7 linked regions of the Homo sapiens genome follow. The protein of the gene in region 1 purifies or fractionates together with the protein of each later gene. This does not show direct contact. Each region holds a gene or a part of one and is shown in the gene's direction. Other genes may lie near its edges. The genes, in order: HEXA, UBR7, AHCY, STK39, HERC4, SLC44A5 and ARHGAP1.

Region 1 (4,601 bases):
TGAGTCCCACAGGACTTCTACCTGGTGTACTGAATACATTTCTATTTTAGGAAAGTGTATACTTTGCTACTTTTCTCTAATAGACCCTACACTGGGGAAAGCAGGGGTTCTGGTCACTTATACTGAGATGAAGTTAAGTCATTAGTCCAGTGACTGCCTCCTGTCTTCCCTGAGCAGCATTTGGGGACTTCTCAGTCTCCAAAGTGAACAGTTGAGTTTGGCTCCTTCCTCACATTCTTGGAGGAAGTAGCTGAAGCATAGAGGAAGGGGAAAGGAGGGTGATTACAAAGGCATTGGGAGCATCGCGTGCTGCACTCACCCCTGCAGGCATCCCTGTTCCCTTTGCCAGGAGAAGACTTCTTTCATCTTTCTGCTGTGGAAACTGACCCATGAGGTAGGTGGTGCTTTGTACAGACCTCCACTCCAGCCTGACTCTTGCTGTACATCATCATCCAGGGTCTACAGAGTCACTGTGGTGACCACCCTCCCACTCTGGCCCCAGACCAGGCCATCCTACAGCTGTCTTGCTCTGGGGACATCTCCTCATTGAAAGATTTTTTAAAATATATGGTCTTACTGTTTTTTTTTTTTAGTCCAGTGATTTATATAGAATATCTGGTCTATAATCTGAGAATAGAAAACCTTAACCAACTAAATGAGTTCATTTCTGTCATTTCAGATACCCTGACCATAAATGATGACCAGTGTTTACTCCTCTCTGAGACTGTCTGGGGAGCTCTCCGAGGTAACAAATTGGGGCTGATTAAAAGAGAGAGAGAAAGGATGATGTGGGAAGGTTGGTGTTGGTGGAGTGCAGTGGCCCAGTCCCTGCTCACTGCAACCTCTGCCTCCTAGGCTCAAGCAATCTTCCCTCTTTAGCCTCCCAAGTAGCTGGGATTACAGGTGCCTGCCACCATGCCCAGCTAATTCTTGTATTTTTAGTAGAGATGGGATTTCACCATATTGCCCAGGCCAGTCTTGAACTCCTGAGTTCAAGTGATCCACCCATCTCGGCCTCCCAAAGTTCTGGGATTACAGGTGTGTGCCACCGCGCCCAGCCAGGAAGCTTTTTTTATGGGAACAATTGGCGTGTTTTCCCGTCTCTGTGGAATTGTCCCTGGAAGTTGACAGGTTTTACCCTGTGCAGCATCAGCAACTGCTGCTGCCCTAGTCAGGGGCTCTGGGAAGCAGTAGGAGAGTCTGTGGGCTGATGTTCTAGGTGCCAGCAGGGGACAGGTAGCTGGGGGCAGGGGGAATGATGCTACCACAGACACTGTCTGTCCAGCTCTTGCTAAAGACATGTAATTGGAAAGGTTTTTTTAAAAGGAAAACTATAACAAAAGAAATAGATACATGCAAAAAAAAAGATAAATAGTAGTGAAATATTTAGAACTACATTATTTCTGGAGAAAATGAGTTTACTGGCTAAACTATTGGCCCTTGCCCTTCTTCTGGGTTTACTGAGAAGGCATTTGGTGCCTAGATACAGACTTAGCCAAATATCTCTCCCACTTTTGGTAAACCCTCTGCTGGTGAATGATGTGGGAAACTCTCTCGGAATTCCACACCTTGCTTTAGTTTGTCTTCATTCCCTTGCTCCACTTCTATGCTTGGAGCAACAGCATGCTGCCTCCCCTTCCTGCCCTCTTGTACCTTTCATGCAGGTGCTGATGGTGAGTCAGGCTAGAGGTAAGGGAGGACCTGGAACTCCAGAATGCTGGGTGTCAGAGTCAGAGTGGGGAGAAGCCAAAACAGTACACTAGCAGTCTGCTCAAATCAGGTGCTGAGTGACTGCTGAGGTCTCATGGATTCTTTCACTTTGAAACTGGGGACTCTGATAATTTTCATGGGGCTTCTGCAGGGTTTCCAGAAGAGGGGCCCCAGCTGTTGAGAACATACAATACTCTGGGTTCAACATACCTGTGTGTGGGCCTTGCTAGACTCTAGGAGACAGTGTCAGTGGACTAGGGGAGTCCTTCTGGGGCAGTTGCTGTCCACCACACCTCAGCTCCCTATAGCTGGGTCTCTTCTTAGACTCTGAAGAGGAAGAGTGGATGATTTTTTTTATCTTCTAGGTCCAGCCATGAACCCAGGCTCCTTGGAAACCCAAGCTTATGATCACTTTCTCACAATTTATTCTGGGACCCCTTTTCTCAGCTCTCTTAGCTCCTGATAGGGGTTATCCATGAAAAGTCCAACTCTTGCAGGCTGAGTTGTCTCTGTGTCTGTCCTCATGAGTATATGTCTTGGCCTCTCTTCTCAATATTCTTGTGAAGGCACAGGAAATATAGATAAGAGGTATGTGGGTTTTGAAGGTTAGTATGTTGTAAGGAAGGGCACTAAAACCCTTACTCTGACATCTCCCAAAATGAAATACAGAAGTAAAGATGGATAGTGGCTTCCTAATATCCCCTTTTCATCAGTGTTAAAAATCGTCAAGCCTACACTACATCCATTTTCCCTGTGTACCCAAATGTTATGCTCTGCTACATTGAGAACCTTCCAAATAGAGACATCTCTTTTTCCACTCCCTGAGTCTTTACTCTGCCTCTCTACATCTTCCTAGGTCTGGAGACTTTTAGCCAGCTTGTTTGGAAATCTGCTGAGGGCACAGTAAGTGTGGACCCTCAAAAAGGGCTCCTTTTTCATCTCTGGGGTTGGATCCCAATATTGAGAATCCTAGAAAAATCTTGTTTTGCCTTAGGATCCTGGTGGCTTGAGATAGCCCCAGTAGAAATGGAAGAGGAGATGTGAGTGGAAAACTGGTTTGGTAGATTTGGTCTGTTTGGAATCACTGTAATTTGGTCCCCCTGAGTCATCATTTAGTAATGACCTTGAGGCCACACTGCTTTGAAGAAAATAAACTATGTTAACAGGAAAATCCAGAATTTGTAGGCTGAGTGGTGTTTGGGACAGTTGTATTAGGCTGGCGTTGGACAATTGCTCTCTGGGAAGGTGGCTGCTTATGGTCATTTATAGAGGTGGGGAGCATTTAGGGAGAGAGCGACCCTGAGAACAGTCACAGATTGGCTTTTTAAGAATCCTGGGAGAGTTGTCTTCATCTCCCTGTGCCCCCATAGTAAGCTTCCTTTGAAACTGACATGTTCAATGTTTGTTCTGCACAGTTCTTTATCAACAAGACTGAGATTGAGGACTTTCCCCGCTTTCCTCACCGGGGCTTGCTGTTGGATACATCTCGCCATTACCTGCCACTCTCTAGCATCCTGGACACTCTGGTAACCAGGCCTTAAGGCCTTCTTCACACTTAAGAGTTCTAGGGTGATGGAGCAACGGACAGACCAAGTTCCAAATTCTTAAAGAGTTAGAGAGGGAATGTATGGACTGGGTGTGGTGGCTCATGCCTGTAATCCCAACACTTTGGGAGGCCGAGGTGGGCGGATCACCTGAAGTCAGAAGTTCAAGGCCAGCCTGGCCAACATGGTGAAACTCTGTCTCTACTAAAAATACAAAAATTAGCTGGGCATGGTGGTGCATGCTTGTAATCCCAGCTACCTGGGAGGCTGAGGCAGGAGAATCGCATGAACCCAGGAGGCAGAGGTTGCAGTGGGTGGAGATCACGCCACTGCACTCCAGCCTGGGTGAAAGAGTGAGACGCTGTCTCAAAAAAAAAAAAAAAAATTGTATGTAATTCTATGAGCTCCTGGGAAAAATGTAGAAGATGAGCTGCTCCAAGACTCAAAAAATAACAGAGTGACTTAAATCTACCTTACAGGCTACTGTAGATCAATGTTCAGGCTGTTTCCAGGGATACAAATGTTTAGGGGAATTGGCTTCATTGGCAGAGCTAACTATATTTGTTTTTGAGACAGCGTCTCAATTTTTTTTTTTTTTTTTTGTATTTTTTGTAGAGCTGGGGTTTCGTCATGTTACCCAGGCTGGTCTTGAACTCCTGGGCTCAAGCAATCTGCCCACCTTGGCCTGCCAGAGTGGTAGAATTACAGGCATGAGTCACTACACCTGGCCGGCAGAGCTAACTTTAGTTAGAACAAGGTCATAGGAGAGAGACGTTCAAAGCCTTAACTTGGGGCCAGGTGCAGTGGCTCACACCTGTAATCCTAGCACTCTGGGAGGCCAAGGCGGGTGGATTGCCCGAGCTCAGGAGTTTGAGACTAACCTGGCCAAGACGGTGAAACCCCATCTCTACTGAAAATACAAAAAATTAGCCAGGCGCGATGGCGCAAACCTGTAGTCCCAGCTACTCAGGAGTCTGTGATGGGAGAATCACCTGAGCCTGGGGAGATCAAGGATGCATGAACTGTGATTGCACCACTGCACTCCAGCCTGGACAACAGAGACCCTGTCTCAAAAATAAATAAATAAATAAATAAGTGAAGGAAGGAAGGAGGCTGAGGCATGAGAAGCACTTGAACCTGGGAGGTGGAGGTTGCAGTGAGCTGAGATTGTGCCACTGCACTCCAGCCTGGGTGACACAGCAAGACTCTGTCTCAAAAAAAAAAAAAAAAAAAAAAAAAGCCTTTCCTGGGGAAGTTCCTAACTCTCTTGAGTTTAATGTGCAGTCTTATCTGACAGTTCCCAATCCAGTTCCTGTGTCTGCCTTTTCCTTTGCTCCTGTGACGGAA
Region 2 (3,500 bases), on another chromosome or scaffold:
ACCTCAGGTGATCCACCCACCTTGGCCTCCCAGAGTGCTGTGATTACAGGTGTGAGCTACCATACCCAGCTTAATTGGGTTTTTTAAATTGATCTCCTGCCTCTCCCTTCATTTCCTCTCCCATCAGCAGATGGCTTCATCTCCTATTACATTGAAATGCTGGCATCCAATGTGAGCTCCCCTATCGTTTCTCTTCTCTGTCTCAGAGTATATCTGCCACTACACCCATCATTTTTTTTATTTCTTCCTCCCATAAAGAAAAGCTGTTTTTAAAAAATTACCCTTCTGTCTGTGTTTACAATTCAATCTCTTCCTCCTGCTTCTTGTATTATTCTGTCTCTAACAAGTACAGTACAATATTTTCTCCTTTATGTGTAAAGTGCTTAAGCAGTGATTGATATTTTCAAATAAACTGTTTAATTATTTGAATTCTTTGGGTTAGGCAGACATAACCTAAAGAAGCGTTGGAATTTTCTTTCTCAGTATTTCGGAGACTACGGTGGACTAATCTCTTTTTCCAGATTCTGAAATATTTTAATATCAGAAAAAGTGATTTTAGGTCAGATGTGGTGGCTCATGCCTGTAATCCCAGCACTTTGGGAGGCCGAGGCAGGTGGATCACCTGAGGTCAGGAGTTCCAGACCAGCCTGACCAACATGGAGAAACCCCATCTCTACTAAAAATAAAAAATAGCCAGGCATGCTGGTGCATGCCTGTAATCCCAGCTACTCAGGGGGCTGAGGCAGGAGAATTGCCTGAACCCAGGAGGTGGGGGTTGCAATGAGCCAAGATCACGCCATTGCACTCCAGCCTGGGCAACAAGAGCGAAACTCTATCTCAAAAAAAAAAAAAAAATAGCAAAAGCTATTGTATGCCTGATGTGGTGGCTCACACCTGTAATCCCAGCACTTTGGGAGGCTGAGGCAGGCAGATCACTTGACATCAGGAGTTCAAGACCAGCCTGGCCAACATGGCGAAACCCCGTCTCTACTAAAAATACAAAAAATTAGCCAGTCATGGTGGCACGCACCTGTAGTCCCAGCTACTCGGGTGGCTGAGGCATGAGAATTGCTTGAACCTGGGAGACAGAGGTTGCAGTGAGTCAAGACCATGCCACTGCACTCCAGTGTGGACGACAGAGTGAGACTCTGTCTGTAAAAAAAAAAAATAATAATAATAGAATAAGTGATTTTATTGTCTGTTGGGATTTTATTGTCCGTTAGGTCAGTGGATATGTGTGTATGTGTTTTTCTTTTTCTTTGAACTCACAGTAACCAAAATATCCACTGAGGATGATGGATTGGTGCGGAACATTGATGGAATAGGTGATCAGGAAGTTATCAAACCTGAAAATGGAGAGCATCAAGATAGTACCCTCAAAGAGGATGTTCCAGAACAGGGAAAGGATGATGTCCGGGAGGTTAAAGTAGAGCAGAACAGTGAACCATGTGCCGGCTCTAGTTCTGAATCTGATCTCCAGGTAATGTGTGAAGTACGAGCCATCAAGAAATAAGACTGGGCCAGGCGCGGTGGCTCATGCCCATAATCCCAGCACTTTGGGAGGCTGAGGTGGCGGATCACCTGAGGTCACGGGTTTGAGACCAGCCTTGGCAACATGGGTAAACCTCATCTCTACTAAAATTACAAAAACTAGCCAGGCATGGTGGCACATGCCTGTAATCCCAGCTACTCAGGAGGCTGAGGCAGGAGAATTGCTTGAACCCAGGAGGCGGAGGTTACAGTGATCCGAGATCATGCCACTGCACTCTAGCCTGGGCAACAGAATGAGATTCCGTCTCAAAAAAAAAAAAGAAAACTGAAGTGGAATTAATTCTGTAAACTTATGGCTTTGGATTTCAATTTTATCCTTTGCCTAAAGAAATCTCTTTACAAAATCTAAACTATGAAAACTATGGTAGTTTAAAAAACATGCTTCAAAACTTAATTTTATTTCAGACAGTGTTTAAGAATGAAAGCCTCAACGCAGAATCAAAATCTGGCTGCAAACTTCAGGAGCTTAAAGCTAAGCAGCTTATAAAGAAAGACACTGCCACCTATTGGCCCCTGAACTGGCGTAGCAAGTTGTGTACCTGCCAAGACTGTATGGTAAAGTATCTGATTGTGCTCAGTGTTAGCATGTTTTGTGTACTGGTGCCCCAAAATAAGAACACCTGGGGAAAACATTCAATTTTTGTACCAGAGGAAGAAAGGAAAATAAAAAGAACACCTGAACAATATATTTATGAAATTAATGTTTAGGAGACCCTCCAAATTTTTACATTAAGCAAATTTATGACATAGTACTTACAGTTGGAATGTTTGTGGAAGAAATGGATAATTATGCAGTATTTTAAATTTACTTATTTTAATTTTAGTTTACTTATCTTTGTTATATCAAAGTTGCTTGGAAACACTGGTTGAAAGTTATAGTAAATTGGCCAGGTGCTTTGGCTCACGCCTGTAATCCCAGCACTCTGGGAGGCCAAGTTAGGTCTCGATCACCTGAGGTCAGGAGTTCGAGACCAGCCTGACCAACATGGTGAAATCCTGTCTGTACTAAAAATACAAAATTAGCTGGGTGTGGTGGCACATGCCTGTAATCCCAGCTCCTTGGGAGGCCAAGGCAGGAGAATCGCTTGAACCCAGAAGGCGGAGGTTGCAATGAGTCGAGATCATGCCATTGCACTCCAGCCTGGGCAACGAGTGAAACTCCATCTCAAAAAAAAAAAAAGTTAACAGTAAATCAATGGTTTTTAAATAAAGATCTCATAGACCATATGACATCTGGGAAATTGGGAGATTTCTGAAAGAAATTTAGGCAAAAAGAATAAATCCTTCTAGCAATTCTGTGTTAAAGACGCTCCAGTTTTTCTAGGTCTTAATATAAAAAAATTACATTTTTAGTGATTCTCAGGAAATTGGCTTTCTGAGAATGATAAACAGTTCTAATGGGGAAACTCCTCTTTCTTTTTTTTTTTTTTTTTTCCCTAAAGAAAATGTATGGAGATCTAGATGTCTTATTCCTGACAGATGAATACGACACAGTTCTGGCTTATGAAAACAAAGGGAAGATTGCCCAGGCCACTGACAGGAGCGATCCCCTAATGGATACCCTTAGCAGCATGAATAGAGTCCAGCAAGTGGAACTCATTTGTGGTAAATACTGTGTGTGTGTGAAAATTCATCATTTCCTTCACTATGTAAAAAAATATAAAGGGGGCAGTAAACACCTATATTTTTAATTTAATACAAAGAATTAAAATTTTGAATTTTAGACCATTGCTTGATTTTCATATTGGTGGGTATTCAGCTGCTTTTACCATTGAATCAGAGTTACATGCTAGAATAATTACATGCTTGAGAAACCACAACATATGCTATTCTGATTAAGGGTAGATGGATGAATGCAAATTTTCCATCCATTGAAACAATTTTTGGACATTATGTGTCATGTTCTTGAGCAAGGCATGTCACCATTTTGACAGTTCTTGAGGTTGCTT
Region 3 (4,611 bases), on another chromosome or scaffold:
AACGCCGTGGAGAAGGTGAACATCAAGCCGCAGGTGAGAAGCTCCCGCCTTGCCAGTGGGCTGGGCAGATGGGAGTGCAGAGGAGTGCTGGCTGCCAGGGAGGAGAGCTGAGGAGATGGTGGCAACCTGTGCAGGGGGATGGGGAGAAGAGGGCCTAGCATCAGAGCCAGCCAGACGTGGCAACCTTATCCTGTGGGCAGCCGGCATCCCTGAAGGTATCAGGCAGGTGAGCTGTATGTGGTGAGGCTGTAGTTTTAGAAAGATCACTCTAGCTACTGTGTGCAGAATAAAAGCAACAATGGCGGGTGGTGGGGAGAGAGGCTTTTAGAGGAGGCTCGTAGAATCCCTGCAGGGGATGATGGCAGCCTCAGCTTAGGGAGTGCTGGGGTGGATGGACGGCATGTGGGGTCAGGATGGAGGCAGAGTAACAAAGGACACAGCTTTGGCCGGGCATGGTGGCTCACACCTGTAATCCCAGCACTTTGGAAGGCCGAGATGGGCGGATCACCTGAGGCCAGGAGTTCGAGACTAGCCTGGCCAACATGGTTGAAACCCCGTCTCTACTAAAAATACAAAAAAATTAGCTGGGCCGGGTGCGGTAGCTCATGCCTGTAATCCCAGCACTTTGGGAGGTCGAGGCGGGCGGATCACATGAGGTCAGGGGTTCGAGACCAGCCTGACCAATATGATGAAACCCCATCTCTACTAAAAATAGAAAAATTAGCCGGGTGTGGTGGCGGGCACCTGTAATCCCAGCTATTTGGGAGGCTGAGGCAGGAGAGAATTGCTTGAAGCTGGGAGGCGGAGGTTGCAGTGAGCCGAGATCGCACCCTCGCACTCCTGCCTGGTTAATAAGAGTGAGACTCCATCTCAAAAAAAAAAAAAAAAAAAAGGCCAGGTACAGTGGCTCATGCCTGTAATCCCAGCACTTTGGGAGGCCTAGGTGGGCAGATCACGAGGTCAGGAGTTTGAGACCAGTCTGGCCAACATAGTGAAACCCCGTCTCTACTAAAAATACAAGAAGTTAGCCGGGTGTGGTGATGTGCACCTGCAATCCCAGCTACTTGGGAGGCTGAGGCAGGAGAATCACATGAACCCGGGAGATGGAGGTTGTAGTGAGCCGAGATTGTTCCACTGCACTCCAGCCTGGGTGACAGTGCGAGACTCTGTCTCAAAAACAAACAAACAAAAAAATCAGCTGGGCATGGTGGTGGGTGCCTGTAATCCCAGCTACTCGGGAGGCTGAGGCATGAGAATCGCTTAAACGTGGTAGGCAGAGGTTGCAGTGAGCCGAGATTGCGCCATTGCACTCCAGCCTGGGCAACAGAGCGAGACTCCATCTCAAAAACAAAACTAAAAACAAAAAACAAAAAGGGACACAGCTTGAATCACTGTGTGAGGAGCAGGCCCATGCACTGAGCTGGGAAAGAACAGGTTTGCATTGGGCATTGGGGCACTGAAACTGGAAGATGAGTTCTTATAGGGGGTGTGAAGTTTTACTTGAGTTGCAATTATTATGAGTTTATTTTTTTCTCTGATTATAAAAGTAGTATGTTTCTGGAAGACATTTTGGCTTTGGATATCAAGAGCTTTAAAGTTAAGCAACCTCTTTGACTGGGCAATCTCTCCTATAATTGGTCCTTAGGATAATTAAATATGTATGTAGAGATGTTCATCATTTTTTTTTTCTTTTTTTGAGATGGGCTCACTCTGTTACCCAAGCTAGAGGGCAGTGGCATGATCATGGCACACTGCAGCCTTGACCTCCTGGGCTGAAGGAGCTGATCCTCCTGCCTCAGCCTTCCAAGTACCTGGGACTACAGATGTGCACTACTACACCTGGCTAACTTTTTATTTTTTGTAGAGACGAGGCCTTGCTGTGTTCCCCAGGCTGGTCTCAAACTCCTGAGCTTAAGTTATCTCCCAAAGTGCTGGGATTATAGGCGTGAGCTGCCACACCAGGTCCACCACATTTTTTAAAGGGAGAAAAGCCCACCTATGTGAGGTTCTTTGAGTTGGTGCTGTGCCGTGTTTGAGATATGATAAGGAAGATACAGACACAGAGTTGGCCAAAGCCCTGACACCCACCCAGTCACAGCCACACCAGAAGCCCAAGTCCCAGAGAGGCAGACAGGCAGCTCTATGAACCCACATCCCCTACACTGCTCCTCTTGGGTGCTCTGCTCCTGCGTGGGAGTTCTCCTTGGCTAGGTCCTGCACTAGTCTAGGGTGTCAGTTCCCGGCTAGGCAGAGGGCACCTCCATCTCTGCCTAGAAGGCCTGGCACTCATCACAGTGTGGGGGTGGCCAGGGCGTGCTTCTGTGGCAGCCACACCCCTGACAGCCATCTGTCTAGACCTCCTTTTTGCAAAGGCATCACAGGTGAAACCTGCTACATTGGGGTGATGGGCACCTTTCTGCCAAGCTGCCCTCCAAAGCTGGACTCTATGCCCACCCTCAACATCCTTGACAGTCTTGCCAACCTTCTGCCCAACATTATCTCTTGTCCGTCCTCTCAAGGGCCTCTGTACTCAGGCCATAATTGACCACTCCCTGAATACCCACTGCAGCTCCTACTTCTGCTCATCTGTCCAGACAGCTGCATTTGTCTGGAACAGAACACATGCCCTTCTCCTTGTTCATCTTCTCAGCCCAGCTCAAGAGACCCCCTTCTGGCCAGGCACGGTGGCACACACCTGTAATTCCAGCACTTTGGGAGGCCGAGGCAGGCGGATCACTTGAGGTCAGGAGTTTGAGACCAGCCTGGCCAACATGGTCAAACCCTGTCTCTACTAAAAATACAAAAAATTAGCTGGGCATGGTGGCTCATGCGTATAGTCCCAGCTACTCTGGAGGCTGAGGCAGGAGAATCGCTTGAACCCAGGAGGTGGAGGTTGCAGTGAGCTGAGATCACACCACTGTACTCCAGCCTGGATGACAGAGTAAGACTCCGTCTCAGAAAAAAAAAAAAAAAAAAAATTAATAAAATAAAAAAGAGACCCCCTTCCTGGCCAGCTCCTCTGGCAGAGGCAATGCCCACACTCTTAGTACAGACCCCTAGTGCAGCATCCATCACTGGCTTTGGTCTCTGACCCCACTGTTGTACCAGGAGGGTAGAGTCCAGGTTGACGTGTCCCTGCAAGGGGCTTAGATGGGTATCAGTGAGTGCTTATTGATTGAAGCATCAATCAATGCCTGATGGGCATCAGAGACCTTTCCTTGGATCGGTACTAGGCCTCTGGAGCAGCTTGGAAACCTGGGCTTTTGGGGAAATGTTTGGGAGGCTGCCTGAGGGTGGAGGGATGGCAAGGGAAGAGCTGGGAGTGGGGAGAAAGCAAGTTTGTGTGTTCAGACAGCTGGGACAGACGGAGGACTGGGGCACTGAGGCTGGGGATTTCCATGTCACGTTCACTCACTAAACCGGGAGTTCTCAACCTTGGCAGTCACCTGGGAGCCACACTGTGGGCCACAGGAATAGGAGTCTCTGGGAATGAGGCCAAGGTATCTTTTTTTTTTTTTTTTTTTTTTTTTGAGACGGAGTTTCGCTCTTGTTGCCCAGGCTGGAGTGCAATGGCGCGATCTTGGCTCACCACAACCTCCGCTTCCCAGGTTCAAGCGATTCGCCTGGCTCAGCCTTCCTGAGTAGCTGGGATTACAGGCATGTGCTACCATGCCTGGCTAATTTTGTGTTTTTAGTAGAGACAGGGTTTCTCCATGTTGTTCAGGCTGGTCCCGAACTCCCGACCTCAGGTGATTCCCCCCGCCTTGGCCTCCCAAAGTGCTGGGATTACAGGCATGAGCCACCGCGTCTGGCCTGGGTATCCTCATTTTTTAAAGCTTCTGAGGTGATTCCAATGTGAGCGCCACGGCATTCAGCTTTTGCTAAGCTGCATTCAAAACTATTTCATGGTTATTGAGAACATGGGATCTGTCCTCAGACCGTCCAGACTCAAATTGCAGCCTCCTCTTAGTGTGTGGCTCTGGACAAGTGACCTAACCCTTGTAAACTTCAGTTTCTGAATCTGAAATGGGGATGACAGCAGTACTGAAATCACAGGGTTGTTTCTGGGATGAAATGTGGTAGTTACCTGTAAAGGACTTAGTACAGGGCACATGACAGTGATCATAACGATAACATTAGCTGCTGCTTACTGAGTGCCTCATATGCGCCAAGCAAGTGTGAGCACGTGAAGTTCTCACAGCAGAACTGTGCAGTCTGCAGCTCAGCATTTCTTTGTTGTTTTTTTGTTTTTTGTTTTTTGAGACAGAGTCTCGCTCCGTCGCCCAGGCTGCAGTGCAGTGGTGCGATCTCGGCTCGCTGCAAACTCCACCTCCCAGGTTCACGCCATTCTCCTGCCTCAGCCTCCCGAGTGGCTGGGACCACAGGCGCCTGCTACCACGCCCGGCTAATTTTTTGTATTTTTTTTTTAGTAGAGACGGGCTTTCACTGTGTTGGCCAAGATAATCTCGATCTCCTGACCTCATGATCCGCCTGCCTCGGCCTTCCAAAGTGCTGGGATTACAGGCGTGAGCCACCGTGCCCCGGCCAGCTCAACATTTCTTAATAAATATTGGCTGTTATTTTTGTGCTAAGCCATGTGCTGGAGGTTGT
Region 4 (4,611 bases), on another chromosome or scaffold:
AAACAACAACTGGGAATCAAACCAAATTATAAAGAGATAGGTTTTCATGATATAAATATGACATTTAGGATTAACCAGTGAACCTCAAACCAGTTTTTCTGTGTTGGGTAATCACAACTTGATCTTTACTCAGAGAAGAGCTTAGGAGTTGCGGAATCTTAACCCCATTATTGCATTTTGCATTTCCTTCTCAATAAAGAAAAATACACTGAACTTTCCGGAAGAGGAGACTAGGGCTAAGTGGCTGACTCCTTTCTGAAGGACTGTGAATTTTATTCAGACCTTCGATAACTTGCTGTGTGTTCCTTGGCAAGTCATCTAATCTTTTTATTCCTTCCTCTTTTCTTAATTCCAATATCTACTAAATCATCGTATTTTCTTAAGAATTGGTCTAATCCTCTCCATTTCCAACCTCTCTATTCATATACAGGCTCTGTTGATTTTGCTCCTGGGCTATGGTTGTGGTCTTCTCTGCTTCTAGTCTTTTTCCTTTCTTGAACATCCCTGCATGGTCACTTTTTCCAAATGTTGTTCTTCTCTAACGAGAGAGGGAACAACAGCTGTTAATTGAATCAGGTACAAATTCCCTTACCTGGTGCTCAGACTCTGTGGTTGGTTGGGCCCCTCAACAATCTCACCCAGTACTTCCCTGCTTTTAAAAATAATGGCCTCTGTGGAAAAGAAGCTGCTTGTAGGAAAGAACTCTCAGGGTCCCCTGAAGCTATGGGGGCTCCTATTGCTCCAGACTCCCACCCAGCCACTTAGGCATCAGTGTCTCTTTTAACTCATTGTAGCTACATTTTAGGAAGCTCTGAACTCTCAAACATTGATCCCGTTACTCTCTGATCAAAGAGAGTCAATGTTGTTCATGCACAACTCAGGTTCCTTTTCAAAGAGAATAGCAGATACTGTAGAAGTTTGAGGTAGGTGAGGCTTGGGTACTCACCCACAGCTTCCCTTACAGGTTTTAGAGAAATCAACTTTCAGACCAAATTTTGCCCTTCATTAGCAAGCAAGCCCCTAAACAGTTCTCACAATTTGTTCTGTAAGCTCAAGGAAATCCCAGTTCTTTTTCCTCATAGGTGAATGAAAAATTCATTAGAGGCAGACATGCCAAGATTCCAGATGCAGTTTTTGCTTTATCCTTATGCTTGCTACTAGGAATCCAACCATCCACAGAACTGGCTAGGGTATAGTCTACAGTTGGACTGGACTGGATTGTTTTATTCTGTTCATGCAAGAGTAAGGAGTATATCTAAAATATTTTAGCCACTCTCTGGTGCTAAGAACCTTTATTTTCAGCAGTGAAAGCCCATTTCTAACATGTATCATACCTCTCAACAGGTCACTGTTTTCCCTAATAATAACCCCTTTGGACAATCAGTCACCTGGCTTATGCTCATCTATATTTAGATTTGGATAATAGAAATACTTCCAGCAGCTGCCTCTGGCATCCTGAGTCGAGTGCTATCAGAACCCCCCCAGCACTGGACATTCTTGGTTAGAATGCCAGCTGACCACCTAGGTTGTGGTATCACAAACATAATATCACATGGCATATGTTGAAGTATTTTAGGTACATTTTAGACATCATAACCACACAGTTGGCAGACTTTAGTTTTGCGGACTAAATTAGGCAGGAGAAATCGCTTTTCTATTTTTTTAAAAATGAATTTGTTGCCAACTACAGTAAGAAAGGGAGCTTTTTCATAAAGATTCCAATGTTTGGCTTTTTTGGGAAAACTGGGATATCCAGCAATCCTGGGTCTACATTTCTCTATGGCAACTTTCTTCTGGTGCCAAGCAGCAGGGGCCTGCCTTGGACCTTGGTGGGAGGGTGCTGACAGTGGGCTCCAGGGCTTCACACAGGGCCCAGCACTCCTAAAGTCTCCCGTCACAGAGACTGAGCATCAAGGGCCCTTGTCACTGAGACTGTAGCTGTTGTTTTTCAGGACCCTCTTTTCTCCATTGTATTCCTGCCTGGCTGCTGTAGGTGTTTTGAGTTTTTGACCCTTGCAGCTGTCAGTTTTTCTTCTTGGCTCCACACTTGTGCTTTGCTCATGCCGTTTCTTTGTCTGGAATTTGTTTCCTGTTGGACTTGCTCATCCAAGTCTTCACCTCATCTTGAAGGCTGGCTCCAAGACCCACTTTGGAGATAGTCTTCTATGACCATTATGGTTATAGCTCCTCTGCTTCTACACAGACAATATAGTATTTGATTTTATACATCTTATCCTACTTAGGTGGGAATATTCTTTTTTTTTTTTTTCTGAGACGGGCTCACTCTGTTGCCTAGACTGGAGTGCAGTGGCATGATCATGGCTTACTGCGTCCTCGACCTCCTGGGCTCAAGCGATTCTCCCATTTCATCCTCCTGAGTAGCTGAAATTACAGTTGCATGCCACCGCACCCACCTAATGAACTATCATGCCCGACAAATATTGTTGAAGTCAAGAAACATGTCTTCTCCTATTTTATCTCTGCCACTGTAAAATATTTATGCTTATCCCCTCAGCCTGCTTGCCTTGCTTATGAAAAGGCAGTGAGTAGCTTATCGATCTACCTAACAGTTGTTATAAAGAATAGTCATACATGGTAAAAAAAAAAATGAGTCTTATAAATATGAAAGTAATATAGAAATTGAGGCTCGGCATGGTGGCTCATGCTTATAATTCCAGCACGTTGGGAGGCTGAGACAGGAGGATCGCTTGAGCTCAACAGTTTGAGAACACCTTGGGCAACATAGAGAGACCCCATATCTACAAAAAATAAAAATAAATTAGATGGGCATGGTAGCACATGCCTGTAGTCATAGCTGCTTGGGAGGCTGAGGTAGGAGGATCGCTTGAGCATGGGAGGTTGAGGCTGCAGTGAGCCATGATCATGCCACTATGTTCCACCTTGGGCGACAGAGCGAGACTCTGTTTCAAAAAAATAAAATAAATAAATAAAAATAGGCCTAAATAAGAAGCCCAATAAGGCCCAGAAAGTTTAAGTCCCTTTCGGGAGTCATACAGTTGGGTAATAGTCTAGCCTTAGGCCTAATCACTGTTAACACTCAGATCTTGCCCATTAGTCCTGTAATGTTTCCTAGTAGATCTGCCACTCTCCAAATCAGATAACCATACCTGCAGATCCTCCTCAAGGCTTAGTAGCATTCACACATCAAAACTAGACCATGACCAATGTTACTGAAATCAAATTACGCAAAGGTGATGAATGCACATCAAATTACTCACCAAGAGCCAGGGTGCCGGAGATGCTGTGTCATTAACAAGGTCATGCAGAAAGCCTTCTGCTGGTGCACCTGTTCAGCATGGAGGGTTGATGTACCTAGACGACAAAGCATCATGTGCAAGGGCAATGCTGGTGAGGCCAAGGAGGTGATGGGATCAGGGAATAAAAAGTAAGTCATTCAGTAGGCTGGAGCTTACTGTCTGAATCTGAGAGTAGTGATATAGGTTTACGTGTTATGCTGAAGGATTTTGACTTTTTCCTGAGGGGACAGGGAGCCTTGAAAGACTTTTTTTTTTTTTTGAGACAAAGTCTTGCTCTCTTGCCAGGCCAGAGTGGAGTGGCATGATCTCAGCTCACTGCAACCTCCGCCTCCTGGGTTCAAGCGATTCCCCCGCCTCAGCCTCCAGAGTTGCTGGGACTACAGGCGCGTGCCACCAGGCCCAGCTGATTTTTTGTATTTTTTTAGTAGAGATGGGGTTTCACCATGTTGGCCTGGATGGTCTTGAACTCCTGACCTCGTGATCCACTTGCATTGGCCTCCCAAAGTGCTGGGGTTACAGGCATGAGCCACCGCTCCTGTCCTGAAAGTCTTTTAAGGAGGGCTCAGGCCTGTGACATAGAAAGGCCTGGTTGCTGGAGCCTGGATCTGGGGAAAGAAGGGAGATGGGAACTTAGGAGGCTGCTGCAGAAATCTTAGCAAGAAGTAGTGGTGGATTAAATGAAGGCAGTGGCTGTGGAGGAGCAAAGAAGTGGATGGATTCAGAAGGTCTTAGACCCTTTTTGTTATTAGGATGACAGCATTATTTGTTGTTGTTGTTGTTTTTCTTAAAGCAGCATTTACCCATATCCTCCAGTTATTCCTGGAGGCAGGGAGATGGACTGGCTAACTTTATGTGTAGCCTTTGATTCTGTGTTTCTAGAGAAATGTCTGTGGTTTTGTACCCAAGTGAATCTGGCTGCATTCCCTTTGGCTGTATAGATGTACCCCTTAGGAAACAAGGACAGCTTTTCACTGTTACAGTTCTGCCACCTTGTTCTAACTGTCATATGCAAGCTATCTCAATATAATATACCAATTTTTTGTGTATATAACATAAGCACACTATGTACTTTGCTCAAAATGTTCTGTTACTGAGTACATATAATCTGTATACACATCAGCCGTACATAGGAGCAAATTGTATATTTCTTCTGTAGTCATAGAGGGAGTAGATATTAGGATTGTTGTTTTCTGCTCCTGAAATTTTTGTTCTGAGTTTTAAAGACATTTAGCCATCTGTTTATGACTTTAAAGTGAGTGTTCAAAGTGGAGGCTCTGAATGTATGTATCATTACAGATATATTGAAAGGGTATTGTCAATAATAAATGGCTAC
Region 5 (3,500 bases), on another chromosome or scaffold:
GAAATGTGTTCCTTCTGGTTTTATAATGGTCACTATCTTAACTTTTATACTTTGTGGAAGACTTGAGTATTATTTCTTTCTTGAATATTTTGTTAACTTGCCTAGTAGCACTTAAGATGTTATTTGTTTTTTGTTGGTATTTGGGATGATGGGTTGTATTTGAAAAGCTGTTTTGTTTCTCTAGCTTGTTTTCCAAAACTATAATTTTTCTGAAAATCCCAAAGGCATCCCAGATTAGGCTCACTGCCAATATAAAATGTTTAAAATTTTTTTAAATTAAAAAACTTTTTACATGAACATACACACTTAATTTTTAAAATACCATGTTTTAAAGCAGATAACATTGGATAAATGGATGAAAGTAATATTTAAGAAAGTCTAGAATAAACAGTAATACCTTCATCAAGTATTATTTTATCAGTCTTTAGCAATTTATGTAATTCTGATTCATCTAATTGGGTGTTAGAGGAGTGCTCTGTAGCATTAAACATTAGATTAATTATTCATTTTAATTCTTTTTTAAGAAAGGGTAAACAATTAAATTTCTGATTCTATGATTAAAAAAACTTTTTTAAATTTTTTAGTGAGATAGATGGAACGTTTTCTTCCTCTGGTTGCCTAAATGGAAGTTTTTTAGCTGTTAGGTAAGTGGCAATTCTTTAATATGCTGAAATTTTCAAATTTATTGTCTTAAATAGTATATCAAATTAAAAAATGAAATAATTTTAAATTTTTATTCTATTTTTTTTTTTCTTTTCTGTTTTTTAGCAATGATGATCACTATAGAACAGGTACCAGATTTTCAGGGGTTGATATGAATGCTGCTAGGCTTTTATTCCACAAACTTATACAACCTGATCATCCGCAGATATCTCAGCAGGTCTGTTTTTAAAGTATTATGTTTACAGTATTATCTGTTGATTTTGTTTTCTTTTGTTTTATACGTTTATAGCCTAATTTACTTTGCAGTTTCACAGACTCTTACGATGTGCTTTTAAAATAAGATTTTATTTTAAAGCATTTGTAATTTAGCTGTCAAAGATCTATAAATCTTTTCAGATGTTTGAAGCAGACCCTGAATTACTTAACATTACCACGTTGCTTAAGTTTGTGTATGGTTATAGAGGTAGAGAGTTTAAATTGAGACTTGTACACGTGATTTTTTAAATTCTCCAAGTAATGCTTAGGCATTAATTTTCATTGTGCTCCAAAGTATATTCATTGTAAGACATTGTCTTTCTTTTTTCTTCTTCACCATTTCATATTTGCTGTAGTGCAAAATTTTCCTTTTCTTTCTTTTCTTCCTGCCTTCCTTTTTTTTTTTTTTCTTTGAAAGTGTATTCATTTTAAATGAAGTAGGTTTTACTTTTTGTCAAAATATAGGTGGCAGCTAGTTTGGAAAAGAATCTTATTCCTAAACTGACTAGCTCCTTACCTGATGTTGAAGCATTGAGGTTTTATCTTACTCTACCAGAATGTCCCCTGATGAGTGATTCCAACAATTTCACAACAATAGCAATTCCCTTTGGTACAGCTCTTGTGAACCTAGAAAAGGCACCACTGAAAGTACTTGGTAAGAATTCTAATATTTTTTCTTTTGAAACCTTTTCTCTTTAAATGAAAATGCTTCATAAGTTCTTTTGCCATTTGCAGTTCTGCTGCCCTGCTTATTTGACACTGTCTTAGGCAAAAATGAACCTGTTTTTCCTTTTCTTGCTTTTGTCTAGTCTTTTGATTCTAGTTGTTGGAGTTGTTGAAAGAAAAACATGTTAGATATAGAAGTTCAATTAAACATAACAGCAGAGACAGTATTAGGAAAGTTAAAAACTGTCACCCGTATTCCTTTCCCTCATCGCCTTTAGTATAATCTTGCTATTAAAGAAGTAAAGGAGGAGGAACAATTAAAACTGAACAAACATGGGCTTTAAATCTTCTTGGAACCCTGATATAAGCCCTTTATCTTGTGTTTCCTTCACTTGCTAATTTCATGATATTTGATTTTATTTTTCTGCCTATAGACTAGATTTTATTGCTCATCTGATCTTGCACTTCTATCTCTTACTGTTCTGGTTTTTTGGCATAAAGTTTTCTCACTTTAATTTTTCTAATTGTCTAGATTTTATCTCTATTTCCTGGCCTTTATACTTTTTTTGCTACATTTAACCCAGTGCTTTTCTTTCTAATGGTATTTGTTAGATATGTGGAGCTGAGATATATAGAAGTAATAATGTCAGTACAAGAACTTTAAGGCTGAGGGTAAATGGAGGAAGCAACAAGCAAGGGGTAGAATATGGGAATCTGAGGGAAAAAGAGTCAAGCAGGGACTGAAAAGAGTATTGCTTTCCTGTTGTCAGAAGTTTTTGTATTCTTTCTGCCTGCTTCATAGGATTGAAGTGTTTGTACTTAGTAACTACAAATAGTGAATGTGGGGAAGGACCCATATGTTACACTTTACATTGTTCAGCTTCTGTATTTGATCTTCAGGAGTACCTTGCATTTTAAAGGTAGTGGTTCACAATATTTCAACCATATATTAAATTGAAAGATAAAAGTTAGAAAGATCCTTTAGTATTAGAGCAATACAATTTAAAGGATGTTTTGTTTAAAAATTGAAACTGTAATTTTCAAAACATTTTTTAAAAACTGGTTTTAATATTAGGTATAGTGGTGAGTTTTTTATATAACTTAGGAAACCAAGAATATAAATTCAACAAGACTTTCACACTTTATTTTTGCTTTTGAGAGCTTTTCGGACAATATTGTTTAACTTGGTCGGGGGGAGGTTTATAAACCTTACAAATGTTACATAAGATATTGTGTTATATGCATCTTTCTGGGGTTTTCTCAGGTTTAACAACTACTGTTTCAGAAAAAAAGTCAGTATGATTTTGAAAATTGTGATTTTTTAAAAAATTCATTTTATTTGCATGTTCACTTTTTAATAACAGAAAACTGGTGGTCAGTACTTGAACCTCCACTATTCCTCAAGATAGTAGAACTTTTTAAGGAAGTTGTGGTACATCTTTTGAAACTCTACAAGATCGGTATTCCCCCTTCTGAAAGAAGAATTTTCAACAGTTTTCTTCATACTGCATTAAAGGTTTTAGAAATACTACATAGGGTATGTCCAATCATTCCTTTATTTTCCTCTTTCCCCATTCCTATTAACAGATTGATACTGTTCATTTTAACATTAATCTATTAAAGATTTAGATTGGCAAAAACAATGCATATTATAGAAATTTGGAAAAGTTATCTATACTTTCTCTTAAAAGAAGTAATAAACCTGTCCTTTGGAGCTCTGGTCTTACCTGACTTTGTTAGGCATGTATAGATAACTTATCCATAGTTGGGCAGAACAATAACATACTAATGAGTTAGAATTCTCCTTATATTTCCTTATGAAGAATATAATTTGTTAGTTTGCATTATATGGTTTTTGTTAGCTGTAAGTGGTTATCTTGTGAAAGAGATTGGGTCCTAGTTGTAATTATGAACAT
Region 6 (4,611 bases), on another chromosome or scaffold:
ACTTTATGTACTAGTTAGCTCTTCCTCTGGTTGTAAATGGAAATGAAATGTTTAATGTTTTCCTAGTGCTTCAGTGGTCTAAGGAAAGCCATCTATCTACAAAATATCACATGAACAAACAGTTCAGGTATGGGATGGAAGAAGGAGCACGAGTAAGGTCAAGCACTAAAACATGGTGGACGCAGGGCTCTAGAATGCTCAAAGATCTCTCCTCTCATCTCCAACATTAACCATGGGAGCAATAACTGGAAATCACTATGTGACCTTCCCCATTCTTGTAGCTGAAAATACTTATGAAAATTTGTCTCAGGAAATGTCTAGAACCTACTAGCTTCCAGTCTTTGGAAGTTTTGGCTAATATGTGGATTTTAAGTTTGGCAGTTGATTTTGAATTTTGACAGTAAGAAATGTTTTCCACCATCTTTATTAATTGCCAACTCCTTGAAAGCCAGGTACATCAGCTTGATTCAGTGTATTGCATGTTGACATGAATCATTTCCTTTCAGAGACACTTGTCTGTGATAACAAAGAACAAGGAAACTTAAATTGTGTTTCTCTTCCTCCCCTAGCTGTTACTATGGGCAACATCACACTTTGTAAAATATTCTTCTTAAATGATGCCCTGAGCCAAATTCTGAATGTGTAGATTTATTTATTTATTTATTCCTATTGTCTTGGCTGCCAGAAAACTGGTGATTTTTACAATGCAAACCATTTGTAAACACTTCATTTTTAGAAACATGGAATCTTTTTATTATTACAAGGTACTGAGATTCATCATCTCAGAGTGGGAAAAAAATAATAGTTGTAGATGCTTATTAATGTGATCCAGGCCAGACTTCTTACCAGTACCTTAAGAGTAATAACAAGATAGATATGTTATATACAGCAGTAATCTCTCCTTATCCATGGGGGTTACATTCCAAGACCCCTGGACATGCCAGAATTCTCTAATAGTACCAAACCCAATTGCTGTCAATTGGAACATGTTTCCGTTTATGTCTTCCATCCACAAATGTAATGCCTTTTCCATCCTAACTAAGCACTTATCATACACTGTGGCCATAACTTTTGCAGTTTGAGATACAACAAAACTAGCTTAAAATTCTTTTTTCTTCTTCACAATTTCACGTATAAAAAATTTGTTTTGCCGGGCATGGTGGCTCACGCCTGTAATCCCAACACTTTGGGAGGCCGAGGCCGGCAGATCACTTGAGATCAGGAGTTCGAGACCAGCCTGACCAACATAGCAAAACCCTGTCTCTACAAATAATACAAAAATTAGCCAGGCATGGTGGCAGGTACCTATAATCCCAGCTACTCTGGAGGCTGAGACAGCAGAACTACTTGAAACTGAGAGGCAGAGGCTGCAGTGAGCTGAGATCACGCCACTGCACTCCAGGCTAGGTGACAGAGTGAGACTTTGCCTCAAACAAACAAACAAAAAACCGAAGATTTGTTCTTATGTAGATCTTAGCAACCTCAGTATAAGTTTATTTCTTATTAACTCGAGAACTTTCACCTTTTCACTTAAAGGAAGCATTTTACAGCTTATCCAAATTGCCAGCAACACTAATCTTGCAATTTGGGGCCATTATTAACTAAAATAAGGGTTACCTGAACACAAGCACTGTGATCTTGCAACAGATAACTGAGAAAGCTACTAAGTGACTAAGGGAAGAGCATCCTAGACAGCAAGGTGATGCTGGATAAAGGGAGGATTCCCTGCCAGGGTGGGATAGAGCTTGACGGTTTGAGGTCTCATTATGCTACTCATAATAGTACACAATTTAAAATTAATGAGTTGTTTATTTCTGGAATTTTGCATTTCATATTTCTGGACCTTGGGTAACTAAAACCACAGAAAGTGAAATTGTAGAAAGCAAAACTGGGTAAGAGGGGACTATTGTATAGAAATAGGATTAAGGACAAAAAAAAGCAAAATGTTCAGCGTCTATCATGTTCCCTCTTTTGCTTTTCATTTTGTATGTGAGGAAGGTCACTGTGAGCGCTAGTAGAAATCTACTAAACCAATGACCCAACCATTCCCAAGACTATAGCTACTATCTGCTGTGAATTGTATATATCTGCGGGAGGCTTAATTTCATGCAAATGTATCCTTGTTTGTCAGCATAATTCTGGTGCTTCCTCCCAACTAGCCAGCAGGTGGGTGGTCAGTGAACATGCCATCAATTTAATATTAGCCTAAGCAAAGCTGAAAGGTAAATTAATGTATTATGAGAGTCAGAATACATTGACATTAGCTTTCAAATACAATCTGAGGAAGACCGCAAGAATTTAGGACAGGGTGCCTTATAGTTAAGTAGAACAAGAGCAAAACTAGGTGTCAAGAAGCTGGGTCCCTATCTCATCCTATTTACCTCAGAGCTTTTGACTTCAGCGAGTTGTTTTATATCCCTGGGCCTCAGGGTGTTCGTCTGTAACATCGGAGTATGGACTACCATTAGAAGTGACTTGAAAGTCTGAAATTCCATTATTATTCTACATTTATCACAGAATTAATATACTTCCTATTCAGCTCCATCCCGGAGGATTTGGCAATTTATATCTTTCTGAAATGAACAGTTACAGAATTTAAATATGACACTTTTTTGAAGGGACATAGAATATCTTCTTAGCCTTTAAAGTATCAAAATACATCTCTCTGGGAGTGGGAGGGATTTAGGAAGTTTCAGTGTTTCCTGGCAGAGGTTGAGGTTTCTTACCTTGCCCAGAATCAGCAAGTAAACTGCACTAATTTGTCTTATATTTGACTTTCTAACACTGATTTTTCTGATTTTTCCCTGTTCGACCCTCCAATTTATAAAAATGTGTATAATTGTTCTGCTGCTTCTGCTTTTGCCTGCTTTGGCTGCTGCATATACAGGTGAAGATCTGGAAAGAAATGATGGATCTACAGAAAAACCCTACTTCGTAACCCCTAACCTGCATGGAATTCTGATCAAGAAGCAACTAGTTCCCCAGAAGCAGAAAGAGTAGAAAAGCTCCAAACAGTGTCACTCATTTTTAAGTAGAAGTTGTGTAAATTAGGTTGATTGTAATTTGGAAATGTTGCTTTTGAGTAATGTGAAATTTCTGTGCTTAATTCTAAGAAGTCAGCACCTGGTACTACCTGAGGTGTCAGGTATTTGATGACATTAGCTGCTGTCTACTTTATAGACAGTGGTCCCAGCTAAAGATCAAAATGTTAATGTCAAACGTTTTTTAAAATCTGTAGCCGAGAGTGTTTTAATAACTTTTATAACTCAGCGTGCTGTTTCCATTGCAGCACTTTAATAGCCTTTCTTTTTATAAGTGTATATTTGTAAAGGATATTCAGGCAATTTTTGAAAACACTATAAATGTGTAATTAATTAGCCATAAAATATTGATTTATAGTTAACCAGCATATGGTACTAAATTTGTAAATATGGTGCTATGGTTATATTTATACTGTTCAAGCTGGTGGACAACTCTCTAAACTGTGATTAAACTTGTATTAATGGTTCCCTAGGAAGTATATTTCAGTGAGTCATGTCCATAACAAACATAGATGTTAATGTTATATAGGTTCTACGGAGAGCATTACTGGGTAAAAAATACTATGGAACCTTCAGAGCCCATTCTGTTTTAGTGAAATCATGTTTATATTGAAGTCGAATCTGAGTTCTGGAGTGTCATTTCCAACAACATGAACCTCTGTCCATGGTGAAAATATTCTGAACAAAACTGAAATTGTTACATAACTCATGCCTTTTGTCTTTAACCCAAATTTCTTATTCCCACTATATAGAAAATCAATATGAATTTGTTTCAGAAGAGTGATTATATCTTTTCATGAGTATACCTGTATTTCTAGATTAAAGAGATTGTGTGGCTTTGTTCTACAGAAGGTTTGATTTTGTCTCACCTTTCAGTGAGGAAAGAGAAAAGAAAGACACTTCAGATTTTACCCTAAGGAAATATACTGTTGGCGCTCCATCATCTAATACCTTTATGAGGGGCATACTGTGGGTTAGGAACTCTCTCTCTGCAGGGCTTAGGAGGAAAGTTGTTGCCACCTGCCACCGCTGGCCGCCTGAGGTTTCTGATAGTCATGTGTAAGTTTTGAATGGCAGAACAAAGCATGAATCAGACACACATCTTGCCTAGCCATCCCCTGTGTGCAAATGTGTATGATGTGGTTAACCATGTAAAAATGCACCCCAAAAGGAGCATTGAATCAATTTGTATTTTCTTGGCTTTTACCTTAAACTTGTATATAAGGATTATTTATATATTGACAGAAAGGAACATGTTGATCTGAATATCACTCATATATCCAAGAAAAGAGTCAGAAATGTATTGTTGTGTTATAGATTGATCTAAATACGTATTAATTATCTTCAAGTGTAGACACCTAGATTTAAACTGACTCTGTGGCAGATTAATTAATAGCAATAAGCCAATGAATAGGGAAGATTTTTAATATATAATGACTACCAGCTTGTTCTTGGCTTACATTCTTGAGATTATTGTATTCAAAAGTGTCAGTTGGCTTCACATTTTGGCAAAGAGCCTTCTGCATTCTTATTCTCCTTGAAGCATAATGCAGATAATGACAACTTATCT
Region 7 (4,611 bases), on another chromosome or scaffold:
ATTCTTGGCGCCTGCCCTGATCTGGGTTGAGGGCCTTGGCTCTGGCCTCATTCACCCCCTGCAGAAGCAAAGCTGAGAGTTTTTTCCCCAGTCTGGTCCTGAATTGGGCACGGGAAAGTCACCTTGAAGGTTCTGAACTTGACTGGAGTCTGGGGGGTACCTGATGTGAAGGAGTCTCTGTCCTGACATCATCCTGGCCTGTTTGGTCAAGGCAGAGCTGGGGGAGCCTGCCCCTCCCCACCTCCGTGGGTGACACCTCCTTCCCCACAACCCCCGCACAGAGCTGCAATTTGTTTCTATTTCCCTAGACTACGATGAGCCTGAGGGGGCCCAGCCAGGTAGGTGTCCGTCCTGGCTCGCTGTGCTTGTCCTCTTTGGACTGCAACCTCTGGGGCTGTGGATCAGGAAGGGCTCTCGGTGGAGGCCAGATGGGGCTAGCTTAATTGCAGTCTCACCCTGGGGAGCTGGGAGTTGGTGGTGCCTGGGAGTCGGAAATAGCAGAAGATTTATGGGAGGTAGGATGGGGGTGGGGGAGGCTGTGTGGGGACACACCCAGGCCCCAAAGGGAAAGGAGCTTGCGGGAGGGTCTGGCCTTGGGCAATGGCCTCTGAGTGGTGGCTCAGGGACCTTCTGGGTGATGGTGTCCCCATGGATGTGCCTCCCTGATTGCTGAGAGGAGGCTGGATTGGCATCACCAGGCACTCATTTGGTGAGACCGTGGAGATGTCCGGGAGAAGCCCTTGTAGGAAGGGAGGGTGGGTTATAGCCTCAGCTCTCCCTGCCGGGAATAGTTGTCATGCCCCAGGGTCAGATTTGGCTCAGTCCCAGTGGGTTCTTTCCAGTGGTGTGCTGGTAAATGGCTCTCTGGAGAGGGGGAAAAAGGCCATGATTTGTAGCATTTGCAGTTTCTGCCTCCCAGCTCTCTAGCTACCAACATGATGTCAACTGGCTTGCAAAATTCCTGACAGTTGAACAGCTTAACAAATGTGTGAGCTGGCTGTAGCACATGACTGGCTCCATCAGCCCAGCCCTACCTCCCAGGTCCCAGGCCTGCTGGTCCGGTTGTGGGTGGGGCTGGTTTGAGGGGGCCCAGAATGCCTGGGGAGACCTGTTGGTGATTAACTCCAGGGCCACCCTGGAGTTAGGACCAGCCTGGGCAACATAGTGAAACCCTGTCTCTACAAAAATAATAACAATAAATTAGCCAGGTGTGGTAGCCTGTGCCTGTAGTCCTAGCTACTTGGGAGGCTGAGGTGGGAGGATCCTTTCAGTCCAGGAGTTGGAGGCTGCAGTGAGCTATGATTGAACCACTGCACTCCAGCCTGGGTGATAGAGCAAGATCCTGGCTCAAAGAAAAAAAAAAAAGATTACAGTCTAGTGAAGTGGTTCTTAAAACTGGTCACAGTCCACTTTGCAACTATGAAAGGTATCCCCAGGATAGGGGGGATCTCTTTGACTGAAAAAAAAAAAAAGTGCAGCCAGGTGCGGTGGCTCACACCTAGTAATCCCAGCACTTTGGGAAGCCAAGGCTGGTGGATCACGAGGTCAGGAGTTCGAGACCAGCCTGATGAACACGGAGAAACCCCGTCTCTACTAAAAATACAAAATTAGCTGGGGTTAAGGCCAGGCGCGGTGGCTCATCCCTATAATCCCAGCATTTTGGGAGGCCGAGGCGGGCGGATCATGAGGTCAGGAGATCGAGACCATCCTGGCTAACACAGTGAAACCCCGTCTCTACTAAAAATACAAAAAATTTTCTGGGCGTGGTGGCGGGCGCCTGTAGTCCCAGCTACTCAGGAGCCTGAGGCAGGAGAATAGCGTGAACCCGGGAGGCGGAGCTTGCAGTGAGCGGAGATCGTGCCACTGCACTCCAGCCTGGGCAACAGAGCGAGACGCCGTCTCAAAAAAAAAAAAAAAATTAGCTGGGTGTGGTGGTGCATGCCTGTAATCCCAGCTACTCAGGAGGCTGAGGCAGGAGAATCGTTTGAACCCAGGAGGTAGAGGTTGCAGTGAGCTGAGATCACGCCACTTCACTTCAGCCTGAGCGACAGAGCGAGACTGTCTCAAAAAAAAAAAGTGCACATGCTTGTAATATTTGTCATATAACATCATGGAGGTGCTGTGTCTGCTGAGCACATTGGTGGAGCCCTGGTTCAGAACCCAAAGCTTCCCACTTACAAAGTGCTGTGGCCAGCTGAGAGGAGACACCACAGGCCTCCAGCCCTCCCCCCAACAGCTTCCCTAACCAGTTGCTACCTCTTATATTTTAGACCCAGGGGCCTCACAGACTTTCTGCCCTGGCTGAATCCTCAAATCTGCCAGCCAATGAGGCCTGCCTTGCTGCTGGTGCAGATGTGAGGTGCGGGGACTCATGGGCTGGAAGGAAAGATCCTTTTGGTAGCCCCCATTGTCCTCGAGCATTTCCCCCAAATCCTGGTTATTTCCTCGCTTAGAAGGAGGTAGGCAGATGAGGCCCCCTCTTCCCAGGCTGGTGGTAGGCATCTCTGGGGTTTCTGAAGCTCCAGACTAGTGAGACTGGGCTTGCCAGTCTAACCCTTTGTCCCTGGCCCCTGCCAGTCTGCTTTTCCTTCCACTGTCAGAGCCAGTGGGAAGTGAATCAGAGCAGGCACATAGCCCCAGAGCCACCCCCAGCTGGCCTCCGGGATCTCAGCACCTCAGGATCTAGGCTAGGGTACGAAAGAGAGCAGGTACCACCTGGTCCTTCAAAACAGACCTGCCGGGATGGAGCTGCACCTCCTCTGCAGACAAGCTGGTAGAGGATTCTCTACTTGCAAATCTGGAGACGTTCTGTCCTGAGCTTTGGGAAACTCACTATCTGAAGCAGTCTGACCCATAACCAAAGCATAATCAAGAACAAACACAGAGGCCAGGTGCTGTGGCTCATGCCTATAATCCCAATACTTTGGGAGGCTGAGGCGTGCAGATCATCTGAGGTCAGGAGTTGGAGACCAGCCTGGCTAACATGGTGAAACCCTGTCTCTACTAAAATACAAAAATTAAGGCTGGGCATGGTGGCTCACACCTGTAATCATAGCATTTTGGGAGGCTGAGGCGAGCAGATCACCTGAGGTCGGGAGTTTGAGACCAGCCTGACAAACATGGTGAAACCCCGTCTCTACTAAAAATACAAAAATTAGCTGGGTGTGGTGGGACATGCCTGTAGTCCTAGCTACTCAGGATGCTGGGGCAGGAGAATCACTTGAACCCGGGACGCAAAGGTTGCAGTGAGCCGAGATCGCGCCATTGCACTCCAGCCTGGGTAACGAGCAAAACTCCATCTCAAAAAAAAAAAAAAAAAAATTAGCCTGGTGTGCTGGCACCTGCCTGTAGTCCCTGCTACTTGGGAGGCTGAGGCAGGAGAATCTCTTGAACTTAGGAGGTGGTGGTTGCAGTGAGCCCAGATCACTCCACAGCACTCCAGCCTGGATGATAGAGACTCCATCTCAGAAAAAAAAGAAGAACAAACACAGAAATATAACTAGAACCAGGCATCCCATAGTTTAATGGTGACCTGCGATTTTGTGCAGGCTACCAAAACGTATTGAATACCTGCCACATGCCAGACACTGGACCAGTACTGGAGACTGTAGGTGCCATGGTACGCAACTGTAATCCCAGCTACTGGAAAGCTGAGGCAGGAGTTCAAGACTAGCCTGGGCAACATAACAAGATTCTGTCTCAAAAAATTGTTTTTAATTAAGCAGGTGGGATGGCATGTGCCTGTAGTCCTAGCTACTCAGGACATGGGAGGCTAAAGCAGGAGGATTGTTTGAGCCCAGGAGTTCAAGGCTGCAGTGAGCTACAGTTATGCCACTGCACTTCAGCCTGGGTGACAGAGCAAGACCCTGTCTCTTAAAAAAAAAAAAATCACAGCTTGCCAGGAGTAAACAAAGAAAAAGAACAAACAAAGACAATGAGACACAGCCTCTGTCTTTGAGCTGCTCACAAGCCTGTCAGGGAGACAGGTACATAAACAATTCTACAGGAGAGTGAAGGGTCAGGACAGTGATGGGTGACGGTTTATGCTGGGAGCCATGAAAAGGGGCAGCTAACCTGTCTGGGGAGAGAGGGCGAGGACACAGGATTCCAGGCGGCGATTATGCCTGCATTGAGTCTTAAGGGTTGGTGGGGGCCCTAGAATATCTTAATGAGAAAGGATAGAATGCTTAGAAACCTACAGAAGTCAATCAGAACCAGTGTCGTCCATAATTCTAGTAATAAGCTGGGTGCAGTGGTGCACACCTGTAGTCTCAGCTGCTTGGGAAGCTGAGGTGAGAGGATCACCTAAAGCCAGGAGTTCAAGAACAGCCTGGGCAACACATTGAGACCCCCATCTCTTTTCTTTAATTTTGTCTTTTTTTTTTTGAGACGGAGTCTCGCTTTATCACCCAGGCTGGAGTGCAGTGGGGCGATCTCGGCTCACTGCAAGCTCCGTCTCCTGGGTTCATGCCATTCTCCTGCCTCAGCCTCCCGAGTAGCTGGGACTACAGGTGCCCGCCACCACACCTGGCTAATTTTTTTTTTTGTGTGTGTGTTTTTAGTAAAGACGGGGTTTCACCATGTTAGCCAGGATGGTCTCGATCTCCTGAC

The links.
Region 2: the proteins of HEXA (region 1) and UBR7 fractionate together in Homo sapiens (co-fractionation; one large-scale study listed by BioGRID). This does not show direct contact.
Region 3: the proteins of HEXA (region 1) and AHCY fractionate together in Homo sapiens (co-fractionation; one large-scale study listed by BioGRID). This does not show direct contact.
Region 4: the proteins of HEXA (region 1) and STK39 fractionate together in Homo sapiens (co-fractionation; one large-scale study listed by BioGRID). This does not show direct contact.
Region 5: the proteins of HEXA (region 1) and HERC4 fractionate together in Homo sapiens (co-fractionation; one large-scale study listed by BioGRID). This does not show direct contact.
Region 6: the proteins of HEXA (region 1) and SLC44A5 fractionate together in Homo sapiens (co-fractionation; one large-scale study listed by BioGRID). This does not show direct contact.
Region 7: the proteins of HEXA (region 1) and ARHGAP1 fractionate together in Homo sapiens (co-fractionation; one large-scale study listed by BioGRID). This does not show direct contact.

The regions. Positions count from the first base shown.
Region 1 is NC_000015.10:72,351,703-72,356,303, reverse strand, and holds part of HEXA (beta-hexosaminidase subunit alpha isoform 2 preproprotein), read left to right. Parts: intron 1-679; coding exon 680-745; intron 746-2,566; coding exon 2,567-2,613; intron 2,614-3,125; coding exon 3,126-3,236; intron 3,237-4,601. UniProt on the Homo sapiens protein: Hydrolyzes the non-reducing end N-acetyl-D-hexosamine and/or sulfated N-acetyl-D-hexosamine of glycoconjugates, such as the oligosaccharide moieties from proteins and neutral glycolipids, or from certain mucopolysaccharides.
Region 2 is NC_000014.9:93,217,256-93,220,755, forward strand, and holds part of UBR7 (putative E3 ubiquitin-protein ligase UBR7), read left to right. Parts: intron 1-1,271; coding exon 1,272-1,480; intron 1,481-1,956; coding exon 1,957-2,106; intron 2,107-2,993; coding exon 2,994-3,156; intron 3,157-3,500. UniProt on the Homo sapiens protein: E3 ubiquitin-protein ligase which is a component of the N-end rule pathway. Recognizes and binds to proteins bearing specific N-terminal residues that are destabilizing according to the N-end rule, leading to their ubiquitination and subsequent degradation.
Region 3 is NC_000020.11:34,285,754-34,290,364, reverse strand, and holds part of AHCY (adenosylhomocysteinase), read left to right. Parts: coding exon 1-33; intron 34-4,611. UniProt on the Homo sapiens protein: Catalyzes the hydrolysis of S-adenosyl-L-homocysteine to form adenosine and homocysteine. Binds copper ions.
Region 4 is NC_000002.12:168,142,639-168,147,249, reverse strand, and holds part of STK39 (STE20/SPS1-related proline-alanine-rich protein kinase), read left to right. Parts: intron 1-4,611. UniProt on the Homo sapiens protein: Effector serine/threonine-protein kinase component of the WNK-SPAK/OSR1 kinase cascade, which is involved in various processes, such as ion transport, response to hypertonic stress and blood pressure.
Region 5 is NC_000010.11:67,988,284-67,991,783, reverse strand, and holds part of HERC4 (probable E3 ubiquitin-protein ligase HERC4), read left to right. Parts: intron 1-584; coding exon 585-644; intron 645-768; coding exon 769-880; intron 881-1,383; coding exon 1,384-1,573; intron 1,574-2,948; coding exon 2,949-3,121; intron 3,122-3,500. UniProt on the Homo sapiens protein: Probable E3 ubiquitin-protein ligase involved in either protein trafficking or in the distribution of cellular structures. Required for spermatozoon maturation and fertility, and for the removal of the cytoplasmic droplet of the spermatozoon.
Region 6 is NC_000001.11:75,204,996-75,209,606, reverse strand, and holds part of SLC44A5 (choline transporter-like protein 5), read left to right. Parts: intron 1-2,887; coding exon of another isoform or gene 2,888-3,000; exon of another isoform or gene 3,001-3,889; intron 3,890-4,611.
Region 7 is NC_000011.10:46,690,162-46,694,772, reverse strand, and holds part of ARHGAP1 (rho GTPase-activating protein 1), read left to right. Parts: intron 1-4,611. UniProt on the Homo sapiens protein: GTPase activator for the Rho, Rac and Cdc42 proteins, converting them to the putatively inactive GDP-bound state. Cdc42 seems to be the preferred substrate.